2 separate regions of the Homo sapiens genome follow, and region 2 is linked to region 1. The links come from fine-mapping of genetic effects on plasma protein levels. A gene starts in region 1. The other region holds a variant in brackets. All regions are shown on one strand. Distances are from middle to middle.

Region 1 (2,925 bases):
ACAATAAATCATTGCTACCATCCTTTGGTAGGGAGTTGCAAATTTTGATTCTGTCTGAGGGCATTTAGCACAAGCAAGCTTTTGAATGGCTGGAGCTAAATGGAGACTTAAAAAGAAAAATTATCCCATTTAATTGCCAAAACTAACAGGACCATGCAGTTTAAGTGTTCAGACATTTATGGTGCAAATGCTCATACAGGCAGCTGATGTCAGTTCTGGGAACTGGTATTAAGAGCAGTGGCATGAAACAGAGTTGATGAATTAGACAGAAAAGACAGTCCATTTTCGGATTGCTTTCAAAAAAGCAGCAAGAGAGAAGCAAAGCTGCAAAAGCAAATGAAAACTCCAGCCCAGAACTTGACATTTGAAATATCAAAATTATAGTTGGGAGAGATTAAAATTGCTGCCCAGTCTGTGATGTTTTCCACTCATCTCTCTTGGAGGATGAAAATCACTGTTTTTTTAAAGTTCTCTTTTTTTCTTATTAGCTGCCTTAGAAGACGTTTTTGTTAGAATGACTGAGTCCTTAGAAAATGTTTTTGTTAGAATGACTGAGTCCCAAAGTGAAATTTCCCAAAGTATGTGTTAAAGAACAGAAGCAGTATTAAAAAGTGAATAAGCTGCTTAAAGATCCTTAAAACAGACATATCATCTTAAATATCTAAGATACCTTCATCCATAGAAAAACAAAATCCACATCCTCCCTAAAAGTGATCAGGCTTTTAGAGCATGCCAGAAGATGATATTAATATTCAGTCTTGCATCATTCTCCTTCTTTTCCTGGACACAGTAAATCATCATCACTGGAGAAAAGGACCAGCATTTGGGAGAGCTTTTCATAGCCTGTGTAATTAAGTTAAGGAATTTTAAAGAGGAATTTTTCTAAGTCTCAGAGGGAAAAAGTGTTCTCTTTATATTAGCAGTACAGACACTGTTGTGTTCCAAGAATGGACACCAAGGATGAATTCAATGAATTCCCTCTTTGTATCACACATTTGTACCAGGTTCTTTTCAGAAATCAGGATTTTTAAAAGCAAAAAACATTTTCTTTCTTAGATGTTGCAGTTAACTTCATGTAGTGTAGGTAATATAGCTGCTGCATTTAAAACAATCCTATATACTTTATCATCCTCACATAGTTCTGAGGACTGGGATAAGTCCTGTTGTGTGGGACAACATTCAGAGTAAATTTGGGCATTAAATAAATGATAGTGAAGAATCTGCCTCTTTTTAAACCTGTAATGAAATGACTTTCCTAGTCAAGAAATATACATTTTCTGTTCTTTTTTAATCTGATTATTTGCCTTTCTACTAGGAAGCATCATATTTTTCAAAGTGCCTGCATCATCTCCTCAGAGGATCTCTGTCTTTCTCTTCTGACTCAACACATACATACATTTCTGCTCTAATCTACAGTAATACTTTGGAGTAGAACAACTGACATAAGATGTTTTTTATAGAGAAAAAATTACATACCTTTTTCTTCTTTCCTTTTGGTCTTGGCAGAGGATGCTTCTTAAATGCTCACACTCACTGGGTGAGTTTGGGCAAAAGGAGAAGAGAGGAGGTGCTGGAAGGAGCTTCTTTACAAATGAACCTTTGTCTGCCTTGTCTCTGGCCTGGGATCGACAGACTCGCTGCTCCAGCCAGGACTGTGGGGAGGAGGGGAGTGGAAGGAGACAAGGCTGCAAGGACTGCCTCCTTTGGAAGTGTTCAGTTTGTTCCAAACCAGGCGAGAACGAATAGAACAGCTTCTTTACAGAGGGAAATAACTAGTCTATACAAGAACCTCAGGGAGGCAGACTCTGGTAGCAATAAAACATAAAACCTGAGGGATTTTAAAAGAACACAGAGTGATTTTTCCCTTAAGAAAAGTGTGTGTGTGTGTGTGTGTGTGTGTTTGTGTGTCTGTGTGTGAGAGAGAGAGAGAGAGAGAAGAGGAAAGTGGGGAATGGCTAGCTGCGCACCTCTTCCCCTTTCACAGTTTTCCTAGCCATCTAGATCTGTTACAAAATCCTGGTAGAAGATACGTTCCAATTCACCTTCCATTTCTCACCCAAAGACTCATTAGTAGTCAATGGAAAGCTAAAATGATGACTAAAAAGAAATGTATTCTGTGCCTTAGAAATAAAAGCACAAAAGAAATTTTATTCTGTTTTCAGCAAACTATACTGGAATTCTAGCATCTGTTAACTGTTGTTTAGGTTTTTAAAAAATTCGATTAGGAGTAGTGTTTTGGGAATTAGAGATATTATATTGTAATGGAGTTGGAATTATCTAGACAGACAATTGAGGCAAGGGCATTCCAGGTTGAATTACAAAGGCATGAAGGTGAAAAAGAGGGTGACAACTTCGGAGATTATAGGTGGTTTCATTTGGCTAAAACCAAAGGTGGTAGGAGATGAAATTTGAGAGACAAGAAGCAGCAAATTGATGAATTACCTCATATGCCATGCTAAAAAAATTGTTTTTATCGTGAAGATGAATGGAAAGATGATGAAAACATATTAAAAAGGATGAAAAGCCTGACTGCAGTGTGAAAGAAGGATGGTTTCCTGGGAGGAAAGGAGACTAAAGACAGAAAATACCGGCTTTTGCTGTAGTCCAGAAGGGAAGATAGGAAGGAAAACTGAAAAGACCTGATGACCACTTAAGTGTTTATGTTTAGCATAGAGATAGGAAATTTTATTAACTTTCAAAGGCTTGGGCCTTTGGACGATGATACTGTTAATCATCTAGAAAAAGGATATAAAAGGAATAACTGTTATTCATCTAGGAAAAAGAATACAAAAGTTTTGGCTGGAGGAGGAGTGGGAAAATAGAAATGAGTTAGTTGGTGAACGTTGAGTTTAAGGAACCCTAAATACAGTTGAGAATGTTTAGTAGGCAGTTGGTTAAATAGACCTAGAGCTTAGGAAAAAGCCT
Region 2 (2,925 bases), 960 kb before region 1:
TTTTTTCTCATATTTTATGTTTTCTTCATTAAATTAAACATCTCTTCCAACCTAATTTGTTTTTATATAAGGTATGATGTTAGAATTCAAATTTGTTTTTGCTCCAGCTGGCTACACACATACCAATGTCATTTATTCAACTATCCATCTATTTCACTAAAGGTACTATCTTCAATACTACCTTTACCATATCCAAATATACACTCATTGATATCCAAACAGTAATATTGTCCATCAGTCAGTGACATATTATTTTCATTGCTATAGTTATTATTATTTCTGTAAATCAAGAAATATTGGACAGTTAATCTTTATTATTCATAGATTCCATGTTTCCAGATTCACCTATTCTTTAAAATTTATCTGTAATTTCAATCAATACTCAATGCTTTCGTGGTCATTCACAGAATTAAGCATGCACAGAGCAGTGACCCAGCTGAGGCCCAACAAGATGCTGCTCTGGTTTTTTCAGCTCTCATGCCTTAAGTGTTCTTTATGTGGTTTATTTACTACCACATTTTTGCATTTTTGTGCTGTTTGCTGATGATTTTGCTGTTTAAAATGGCCTCCAAGCAGAGTGCTAAAATGCTGTCTTATATTCCTAAGCACAAAGAAGGCTGTGCTGGGCTTAATGAGAGAAAAATCCGTGTTTTAGATAAATTTCGTTCAGGCATGTGTTAGAATATGATTGTCCCTAAGTTTAATGTTGGTGAATCAACAATACATACATCCAGAAAAAGAAAGAGGAAATTTTCTAATCTGTACATGAAACTACCCCAGCAAGTGCTACAGTAACGTGTATGGTGTATGAGGGAGCTAGGGAAGACGTGGAAATGTGGCTCAATTTGTAGTTTCATGAGATAAGAATTGATTTTTTTTTAAGTGTAGTTGATAGTATTGTTGCAAAGCTGAAAGCCAAAGAAATTTCCAGTCACATTATCCAGCATCAGGGAAATGATAGACCCTTCTCTGCTAGTTTTTATTACAACAAAATCCATATATAATTAGTTATTTATAAGAAATATATATTAAATAATGCATTTTTAAACACATATGAAACAAGGTTATGTGTTCATCAGTTGATGAAGATGTTTTGATCAAAAGGTCGCAGGATCCTAACCTTGTATTTCCCCTTGGAACATTGACTCAGTATTCACTGATTCAGTGTTGACAGCAACTTTGTAGGTCACAACTACTATGTCCCACTCTGAGTTTTCTCACTTCTCTGTTGCCTTTGGAACTGTCTCATTCTCATATTTAAGTTCTGGGATATTGCTGGTGATCATCTCGATCACCTGTATATTTGTTTCTCACTTCTTCTGGGGGGAGTGAAGCCAGCTTGCTTCTGCAGCACCATATTGAAACCAGAAGTAAGAACAATATTAATGTGAAAAGCAAGAATCATTTGTACTTAAATTTTATAAATAATGCTCAATAAGTATTTAGACTATACTTACGGAAATAATCTGTATGTTAGATAAATTTTTTTACTTTTGTAATTCCTTACTCTTATAAAAAAAGGATTTCTTAGTCTTGTAGCCTTTAAACTCAACAAGAAAGGACAACAAGAAAATTAAATGCTCTATCCCATCAGCTTATGTCGTATTCCGCTCATGCCTTGCTTACTCTAAAGTGAGACTATAGTCAGAAAATGAGTCCATCCATTCAGTTACCGATATATTTCAAGGCTTTTCTGTAAGTTAAGCACTGCACTTGTTACTTGGAATGCAAATATCAGTATGATGTGCTATTT[G/T]CCATTAAGATCTAGCAAAAATTGTTATTTCAATTGATGGCAGGGAATTTCAAAATAACATACGTATTTTTAATGAGAGAAAAAAATACCAATAACATTAAAGCAAATAGAGATGATATCACAAGGAAGCTTTGCAAGCTACTGAGTTTTCTAATAGTACAACATGACTAAGGGGATTTTATCTATTGGTGACTTTAAAGTTCTAACTTATTTATTTACCTTTAAAAAATATTTTGGTCTTTTTCATTCTGATTGTAAAGCGATATTATGTTCAACATGGAAACTTGTAAACATTGACAAACATGAAGGAGAGAAATCACCAGTAATGATCCATATACATATATATATATATATATATATATATATATATATATATATATTTCTTTTTTTTTTTTTTTTGAGACAGAGTTTCACTCTTGTCCCCCAGGCTGGAGTGCAGTGGCACGATTTCAGCTCACTGCAACTTCCACCTCCTGGTTTCAAGCGATTCTTCTGCCTCAGCCTCCCAAGTAGATGGGATTACAGGTATGCCCCACTATGCCCAGCTAATTATTGTATTTTTAGTAGAGACGGGTTTTTACCATGTTGGCCAGGCTGGTCTTGATCTCCTGACCTCAAGTGATCCACCCACCTCGGCCTCCCAAAGTGCTGGGATTGCAGGCGTGAGCCACTGCGCCCAGCTATGATCCATATATATTAACAATTAAGTAGCTAAACTTATTTAGTACTTAATACATAAAAAATCCTGTTCTTGGCTTTCTTGTATTCATTACAATACCCTAATAAAGTAGTAATATTATAGCCCCTTTTTATATGTGAGAGATATGACTGAGAACACAGGTGATATATGAAAAACAAGGTTTACTATGAAGTCCAAACAATTTTTACTTTACTACTTATGTGATATCAGTAGCATCAAATGTTTTATGCTATTTTTAGTATTGGGGGAAATAATCTGGTAAAAGCTATTAAAATTTAAAAATATGTTTATCTTTCAACACAGAAAACTGAAAACCTATATATATGGGATCTTTATAAGGACACTTATTCCCTCCAAGGAAAGGTGTGGCCCGGATGTTGGGAAACTAGATAAGGACCTTGAACTTTACCCAGCAAATCCTAGAGAACCTTTAGGATGCTTTGAGGTAGTGAAGTGGCCTAGCATAATTGAA

Direction of the effects. Alleles are on the strand shown, and positions count from the first base shown. The strength of an association depends on the size of the effect and on how common the allele is.
In carriers of allele G in region 2, the plasma level of the protein whose gene starts at base 1,525 in region 1 tends to be higher than with T alone (weak association).

Evidence for each region. A credible set is the group of variants that fine-mapping cannot tell apart. PIP is the posterior inclusion probability: the model's chance that the variant is causal. The UK Biobank Pharma Proteomics Project read protein levels with antibody pairs (Olink). The fine-mapping took linkage between variants from a reference panel, not from the people measured, so its PIPs are less certain.
Region 2: its variant is the best candidate, but not a certain one, in a credible set for the plasma level of the SCRG1 protein (UK Biobank, PIP 0.72).

Annotation. Positions count from the first base shown.
Region 1 is chr4:173,397,592-173,400,516 of GRCh38, forward strand. SCRG1 (stimulator of chondrogenesis 1) reads right to left here and starts at 1,525. Exons shown (of 3, transcript NM_007281.4): 1 at 1,477-1,525. All of the region lies in intron 1 of LOC112268474 (a long non-coding RNA gene), which reads left to right.
Region 2 is chr4:172,441,031-172,443,955 of GRCh38, forward strand. The region is part of intron 5 of GALNTL6 (polypeptide N-acetylgalactosaminyltransferase like 6); the gene reads left to right. Among named protein-coding and RNA genes, the nearest start is that of GALNTL6-AS1, 280 kb to the right of the region's middle. The variant G/T (reference allele first, on the strand shown) is at 1,754.